2 separate regions of the Homo sapiens genome follow, and region 2 is linked to region 1. The links come from fine-mapping of genetic effects on gene expression. Tissue or cell type: pituitary. Region 1 holds a variant in brackets; the other region holds the start of a gene. All regions are shown on one strand. Distances are between the middles of the regions. Region 1 overlaps FMO1-AS1 (FMO1 antisense RNA 1). Region 2 holds the start of FMO3 (flavin containing dimethylaniline monoxygenase 3).

Region 1 (4,402 bases):
AAAAGATTTAGCTCCTAGTTACAGGTAAGGGATACTCCTAAGAACCAGACAGACTACCAGAGTCCCAATCAAGTGGCCTGGAGATCAGAATAAGGCTCCAATAAGTCAAGTCATAGAGCATGGGTATATTCTCTAAGAAAGGTCCTCCAAGGAGCATATGACAACATACGACTAAACATGCAAGGAATTGATCAGGAGAATACCTGTGAAAGATAATAGGAAAGGAGCTGGAAAAGACAGGGAGAGCTGTCAGACAGGGATGCAAGTATGACCCCAAGCGAAGAAGTGAGGGGAGGAGAGTTGGGTGAAAACATTCCAGACTGCCAAGCAGTCTAGGAATGGTTTGGCAAAGCTGCAGGGGAATGCCTGAACAAAGTTGGGCATCAGAAGAGCCCTGTGTCTATAAGGCAGAGGCCTGCCTAGGTATCTCTGCCATACTCAGTCATTGGCTGGGAATAGCCTGAACAAGTACAGCCTCAGTTCAAAGACAGCATTCAATGAGCAGCTTGGGTCCATTGGTCAATTATGCTCCCTGTAGTTTGGGTCCATTGGTCAATTATGCTCCCTGTAGTTGGAGATCTGCAACTTCTCATGACCACCAGAAGGAGCCAGCCCAGTAGGATTTACCAAAGGATTGGTGAGGGAACAGGTGCAGAGTTTATACCAGATACCAATATTACCAAAGGAAAACTAATTCCAGGCCCTGCAGCTGACAATTGTTCACCTTTCGCCTTAGTTTGGATTGGCTTAGTGATCAGGAACAGCAAACTCAGCAGACTGAAATTTCTCTGTGTTTAGGTGAAAATGTGCTTCTGTGTGAAGGCACAACTGGCAATTATTAAATCTCCTCTCCCAAGCTTGAGTAAATTAAAGAGGGGCTCTGAGCTATGAATTTCAGCTCAGAGCCTTCAAAGATAAATGTTAAACTTTTGAAAATTTTCCAGCAAGATAATGGCAAATGGTTATCTAAATTTCACTGTGTAATTTGCATCCTGTCAGATAACACAACTCCTGTCAGTGTTTTATGTTGTTCCCCCAGCCTGTTTTCAAGCAGTTTTCTTCCTGTGGAACATAAAACAGACAAATAATAGTGGGGGTCACATGATCTGCTTATTTTTAGACTGCTGCTCTACTGCAAATAGCTTTCCAGTGCCACTGTGTCTCAGCCCATATGTCCTGCTATAAAGGAATATCTGAGGCTGGATAATTTATAAAGAAAAAAGGTTTCTTTGGCTCATGGTTCTGCAGGCTGTACAAAAGCATTGCACTAGTATCTGCTTCTGATGAGGGCCTCAGGCTGCTTCCACTCATGATGGAAGGGAAAGGGGAACTGATGTGTGCAGAAATTACATGGTAAGGCAGGAAGCAGTAGAGAGAGGAGGAGGCATCAGACTCTTTTTAACAACCAATTCTCACAGAACTAAGAGTGAGAACTCACTCCTGTGAGGATGACACCAAGCAGTTCATGAGAGGTCCACCCTCAAGATCCAAATACCTCCCACCAGGACCCACCTCCAACATTGGGATCAAATGTCAACCTGAGACTTGATAGGGCCAAGCAAAGTATATCCAAATCACAGCACAGTTTTTCAGCTCCAGAATAATTATCATGTTTTCCAGGGCAAAAGTTTCCATAAAAATGATAATAGTAAAGGGCAAACAGAATTCATGCTTTCTACCAACAGTTTTTGTACTAGTTATGTACTAGGGTATATTCTAGGACCTGGAGATTTAACAGGAAATTATATTAAAATAATCCCACTTTTAAGAAAGTCACATTCTATCAGGGGAAAACAGTCTATTTAAAAATACACGGGCCAAACACAGTGGCTCACGCCTATAATCCCAGCACTTTGGGAGGCCGAGGCAGGTGGATGACGAGGTCAAGAGATCAAGACCATCCTGGCCAACATGGTGAAACCTTGCCTCTACTAAAAATACAAAAAATAGCCAG[A/G]TGTGGTGGCGGGCACCTGTAGTCCCAGCTATTCAGTTGGCTGAGGCAGGAGAATTGCTTGAACACGGGAGGCAGAGGTTGCAGTGAGCTGAGATCGTGCCACTGCACTCCAGCCTGGTGACAGAGCAAGACTCCGTCTCAAAAAAAAATTAAAATTAAAATTAATAGAGAACATATCATGACATAGAATAATAGAAAACAAATGGCCTTAAAAGTTGTCTAGTCCAGTCCTCTAGTTGCAAACCAAAGCAACCCAGGAAACATGTGAGGCCAGTGGTTACCAACTCCCTTTGAGTCCCAGGTGTACTTTTTCTTAAGCTACTGAAACTATATTGCTTACAGTGTATCAGCCCCAAACCTGATGGATTTCTAGTCAATTTATCAATATTCTGAAGTTCTATATTTCCCTAATCTCTAGTGCAGAAATCCAGCTGCAATTCCTTCTATTTTATCCCAGTAAGATCTCATTCTAAATCAGCAGAATGCTCCTTTTTGGCATCTTCAATGCTTGTTCCCACCCCACTGTGCCTTCGACCAATTCATTTCATCATTTCTTCTCTCTCTCTCTCATTTTTATGCTACCCATACCCAGACTCAATATTTCAGCCTCATTCTCTCTTCCCCTGGCTTGAATCCCCACTTGCAATCTAAGGATAGGTTCTATAAAGTCTACTTTCTCTATCTCTTTTGCCTCTTTCCATCTTATAATTCCCACTCTGGCAAATTAGATCTGGCTATCATTATTTTTTTTAATTTTGATATAGTATTATTTGTCTATTTTGCTTTTGCTGCCTGGTTTGTTTTTTAATTTTTTGTTCATGTTTTGTTTCGGTTTTTTTAGAGGCAGGTTTTTGTTATGTTGTCCAGGCTGGCCTGGAACTCCTGGGCTCAAGCAGTCCTCCCATCTGAGCCTCCCGAGTACATGGAACATACCACCCCACTCCCAGCTATCATAATTTCTTAGTCTGTTGGAATAGGCCTCTAACTGGCCAGCTAGACTTTAGTTTCCCTGTCATAGTTTATCCTGTATACTACTGCCAGAATCATCTTCCTGAAGTGAGCCTCTAAAACACATTACACGTGCATACAATTCTTTACTGGTTCTTCTTTCTCCCCATTTAAATCTCATACAAGGGGCCTCCCAATATGACTAAAGCTACTTTTCCAGTCTTATTTGTAACTATGTTCCAGACAAACTATACTATTTAGAGTTTTCTCCCTGAATAAACCCACCTTCATGTATATATTTATGGTTATACATGAAATATATATATAACCATAGAAAAATGCCTGAAATCCAGGCGTTTTTTAAACCCGTCTTAAATCTAAATTCTTTCCTTTGGGGTCAGACTTTGTACCTGTTCCCAGAAGCATGCTGAGATCTAACTCTAGTCATGAATCTAATGGCAGCAAAGGCTGGATTGGGGTACTTCTTGAGAATAGCCATCCTTTTGCAAAGCAATTGCCACCAGTGAGGTTATTACAGGATTTTTAAACATCCTCAGACTTGGGATGGTGGGCTGCTTCCACTAGAAAGAGAAGCTCAAAGTGATTCGAAGGTTTGAGATTCTCAGCTTCATTAAAAGACTTGCTGAGGCTGGGTATTCAGCATAAGTTGTCATTCTGAAACCTGCAAAATTAAAATTTGTTCTGATTTTCAGACAAGTTGAACCTTTGTTGCAAGAAATAATATTATTTTAAATCCACCACAGGAGCACTCTGGCTGTCTGGCATGACTTGAGCCGAGAGTTGAAAAACCTGTGCCTGTCATCTTCTTTCTTAAGTGCTTCAGTGCACTCAGAAGTTACCATCCCTACCCTTGATCTTGTGGTCATTATTGCCATCATGCAGGTAAATGTAGCAGCCACTTGTCGTCTGCCCCACCCCCACCCTGCCCCACCAAGGGACTTGCTTCAGTAGGTACTTCCTCACAATCAAATAGAGGTGATAATGTGGTTAATTGTGATGCCATTGCTTGCATGGATTACTGTATCACGATTCTCAATTTTTAAGGAGGTCAGCACTGCATTCAAGTCCAAGGACATGACCAAACCAATCCCAATATCTTATTTTTAAGTGTCCATTTTCTTGGACCATTCCTGGCACCAACTTCTGTATCAGTTAGGGTGCTTTCAGGAAAGAGAAACCTTAACAATAGTTTCAACATAGAGAATATTGATATAGTTTTGCTGTGTCCCCACCCAAATCTCATCTTGAATTCCCACGTGTTGTGGGCAGGACCCAGCGGGAGGTAATTGAATCATGGAAGCAGGTCTTTCCTGTGCTGTTCTCGTGATAGTGAATAAGTCTCATGAGATCTGATGGTTTTAAAGAGGGGAGCTTCCCTGCACAAGCTCTCTTCTCTTGTCTGCTGCCATGAGAGATGTGCCTTTCACCTTCTGCCATGATTTTGAGGCCTTCCCAGACACGTGGAACTATAAGTCCAAT
Region 2 (4,402 bases), 33 kb before region 1:
TTGGAATGTTCCATCATAGCTTTGATGATCAAGTCTGAGTCTCCAAAAGCCACTCTCATTTTATAGAAATCTTTCAACTGTTATGCATCATCAGACATGACAACAGGTGTCACAAGAGATATATGCCTTGCCTCCAGCAAATCAATTAGAAGAAAACAAAAATTTCTTTAAAATACAAAGAAAATATAGAGCAAGAGAACAGAATATAAGTCTTCCACTCATATCCTCCAACAGCAACAATAATCTAGCAACCATCCAGGGATGAAAGTTTCTTCTTAGCAGTTTTGTGATTTGGAGGGGACAACAGAGTAGAGAATGCCCACTGCCCCAACCAGAGCCTGGGCATTTGAGATTCTGAAGATTTAAAAAGGGGCTCTGCAGAAAGCTGTGGCAAGCAAAGGATAGGCTAGAGAGAGACAGGACTAATAAATGTGTCGACTTCAGATACATTCTTGTGAAGGACAGCAAAGAATAGGTGGCCTTTTCACCTCCTAGAGAGATAAAACATCGGAGGCCAAGGTAGAATTGGGTGTGTCCTGCCAATCTTTAAATGAATAAGGCTATAGGAGTAGTATTGCTTCCTGAAGTAGTCACAATCTTTTCTTTGCATTATTTTAATTCTATTTATGTAGCATTAAAAACTGAAAAGAAGTTCTATGTAAAATGAGAGCAGAGAAAATCATGTTGTCTGAATTGCAGCCCTAGAAAATTTCATGAACCTATGACTTGTTTTTAATTTTTATCTACAAGTCACATTTGCTCATTTTTAACTACATGCCACATTTTATATGTACCTATGTATACATGTATTTATGTGTACATACCCTTTAATCCTCTAATCCTTGTTAAAAAAAAAATAGCCAGACAGGAATTAATAGTGTAGTTATCCCTATTTTATTAATGAGTAAATCAACGATTGGAAAGGTTAAGTGATTTGCCCAAGGCCACAGAGCTATAGAAGTGATTTGGAATCTCTCATACTCACACTTCAGAGATGAAGATTACTGTCTTCAAAAGGCATGAAGGGTAATTCCTCAAAATTAGACATATACCAGTTTACACTAAGTATCACTTGCTTAATGAAGGAGTTAACTAGACAAAATGAGTGAGATGTTATAATTCTAAGTGACATCAAAATATAGTTGATAGGAAAACTTTTTTTGAAATTCTACTATATTTCATGACTGGGAGTTAGGTGCAGTTTATTTTGTCTAACTGCCAACATAATTTTACCTGGTACTAATTTTACCTGGTTCCTGGTACTAATAGATCAATTTGTGGAATTTTGATCTTTTCTGTGACCACACACTGTACTCAGAAACAAGTAAATATAAGCTTGAGAAATACAGGCCTTTGACCCCAAAATTCCAAGACAGGACATGAAAAGAGAGAGCAGAGAAAAGTCATCCTCCTTATTGGGCTATCTCAATTAAGTAGCTAAGTTTCTACAGTATTTGGAGGACTACTATGAGCTACCCACAAAAGAACTAGGAATAAGGAAAACAAGGTAAACTTTCAAATAACACATAATAAAATGGAGTACAGAACTGCAAAGTCACCTGGGAGAAACTACTTGACTCCCAGGCCAAGGGTCCAAGAGTATAACCAGCAGCTTGTGTTTACCATAATCAAAGGAAAAGTAGAAACTGGGTGGCCATGGGAGACTGGCCTACAGTCCCATCCATCACAGAGGGTTGGCGTGTGCTCACCCATTCAAGGACCAATAAATGAGTATCTCTTTAAGAGCAGCTCCTCCCATTTTTCAACAATCTTCCTAATATGTAGGCTCACTAGAACATTTTCTCTTTCAAACTGCCCAGACGGTTGGACAGGACGTAGACACACAGAAGAAAAGAAGACAAAGAACGGGTAGGAAAATTAAAAAGGTAGGAGGCTGAGGCGGGTGGATCACCTGAGGTCAGGAGCTTGAGACCAGCCTGACCAACATGGTGAAACCAAATCTCTACCAAAGATACAAAAATTAGCCAGGCGTAGTGGTGCATGCCTGTAATCCCAGCTACTTGGGAGGCTGAGGCAGGAGAATCACTTGAATCTGGGAGGCAGAGGTTGCAGTGAGCCGAGATCACACCATTGTACTCCAACCTGGATAAAAGCGAAACTCCGTCTCAAAAAAAAAAAGAAAAGAAAAAGAATAAAAGGTGATATAGTAAAGGGTTGAGGGTGGGATGGGTAAATGAAGAAGGAGCATGCTGTAGTTTTATACCAAATATGGCTAGAATGAGAATGATATAATTCAGGCAGTTTGTTTGTTTCTGGGAATCACGGATCATGATGTTTAATCATCCAAGTCTATTTCCCTGCATAGCTATGTGATTTTGTCTAAAAAGAAAAAAAAAAGTAGTGAAAGAAGTAGTGGTAGAGCCTAAAGACAGTGTCAGGAACAGAAAAAAGTTAGGAAACGTAATTTTCTTAGAGGGGAATGGACGCTGAAGGTAGTGGGAAAAAATTGTTTTTAGGTAAGAACATGACTTCTTTCCCCAACACCCCCCGGAGAGAAGGTCTCACTCTGTCACCTAGGCTACAGTGCAGTGCTGTAACCATAGCTCACTGCAGCCTCAAACTCCTGGGCTCAAGCGATACCCCAGCTCAACAGGACTATATAATCCCAGAGTAGCTGGGACTATAGGTATGCACCATTTACTTGTCTTTTTAATTGAGAAGGTGAAGTACATTATTGATGGGGAGAAGGGGTGACTACCTGGCACACTGAAATACAGACATCTTCAGACCTTGTTCCTCATTATCCGTATCTAAGTAAAAAGAAGATACAGATTGCGTGTGTGTGTGTGTGTGTGTATGACTGTGTGTGTGTATACATATACATATGTGTTTCTTCATTCCCATATACAGGCATATGTATGTGGGTGGGTGGGTGGATGTGTCTACAGGTGTTTTAGTTGCGAATCTTTATTTCTTCTGCTTACTCTTTTTGGTAGACAGTAAATGACAAAGTCCAAAAGCAAAAAAGATAAATATGTATGCTGGGTCATCAGTCTCTTAATTTTGGAGAGCTGATGACTAAAAACAAAGTGCTTATTTTTTTTTCAGAAGAAAACTTTCTCTTTAGAAATTAGAGAGAAATGAAAATGTAGTTAGATCACTAAAAGGAATTTGTTTTCTAGAGACAAGGTCTTACTCTGTCACCCAGGCTGGAGTGCAGTGGTACAATCACGGCTCACTGCAGCCTGGAACTCCTGAACTCAAGTGATCCTACCGCCTCAGCCTCCTGAGTAGCTGGGAGTACAGGCATGTGCCACCACACCCAGCTGATTTTGTTTGTTTTTTGTTTTGTTTTGTGGAGACAGGGTCTCACTCTGTTGTCCAGGCTGCTTTCAAACTCCTGGGCTCAAGTGATCCTCCCACCTCAGCCTCCCAAAGTGCTGGGATTACAGGCGTGAGCTACCATACTCAGCCAGTGTTTATTAAAAAGTAAAGTTTTTATTAAGCCAAAGAGCGAAATCAAAATAAATAGATAAATAAGTAAATACATTTTCAGCAATGTTGTTACTGGAAATGTTCTCTGGGCCTTTGCACAGGTTACCATGGGGAAGAAAGTGGCCATCATTGGAGCTGGTGTGAGTGGCTTGGCCTCCATCAGGAGCTGTCTGGAAGAGGGGCTGGAGCCCACCTGCTTTGAGAAGAGCAATGACATTGGGGGCCTGTGGAAATTTTCAGTGAGTAGCATGTTGTTGTAATAGACAGGAAAATAGGTTGGGAAGTGTATAAGAGCACACTGTGTGCACACAGGTTTCCAAACCTGCTACCATGGCAGTTATCATATCTGTTAGAATTGGAATCCACTAAGTACAGTGTCAAGAGCAGGTTGGAAAGTAACCTCCTTGCAAGTCAGAAGTAAATTAGACAATGGGCTTTGAAATTCTCCATTACAGTTCTCCCTTGATAGATCATTAATAAGAGCCACTTGGACATAAAATTAGTGGTAAATATTAGTTAGGTTTATGTAGTTATAATTATTTACTCATTTAAAACACAATAACTTTTCACATCTTTTTTTTTTTTTACAGATTTAGGGGGTACAAGTGCAGTTTTATTACATGGATATAATGTATAGCAGTTAAGTCTGGGCTTTTGTGTAGCCATGACCCAAATAATGTACATTGCACCCATTAAGTAATTTCTCATACCTCAACCGCCTCCCACTCTCCTACCCTTCCAAGTCTCCAATGTCTATTATTCCCACATTCTATGTCAATGTGTATACATTATGTAGCTCCCAATCGTAAGTGAGAGAATATGTGGTATTTCACTTTCTGTTTCTGAGTTATTTCACTTAAGATAATGGCCTCCAGTCCCATCCATGTTGCTGCAGAAGACATAATTTCATTCTGTATTCTCGCTGGGTAGTATTCCATGGTGTGTG

Evidence for each region. PIP is the estimated chance that this variant, and not a neighbour inherited with it, causes the effect.
Region 2: it holds the start of FMO3, and the variant in region 1 is the best candidate, but not a certain one, in a credible set for the expression of FMO3 in pituitary (GTEx, PIP 0.55).

What each region holds. Positions count from the first base shown.
Region 1 is chr1:171,122,001-171,126,402 of GRCh38, forward strand. The region is part of intron 3 of FMO1-AS1 (FMO1 antisense RNA 1); the gene reads right to left. Among named protein-coding and RNA genes, the nearest start is that of MIR1295A, 22 kb to the left of the region's middle. The variant A/G (reference allele first, on the strand shown) is at 1,955.
Region 2 is chr1:171,089,096-171,093,497 of GRCh38, forward strand. It overlaps FMO3 (flavin containing dimethylaniline monoxygenase 3), which reads left to right and starts at 1,810. Exons shown (of 9, transcript NM_001002294.3): 1 at 1,810-1,886; 2 at 3,558-3,695. The coding sequence starts at 3,564.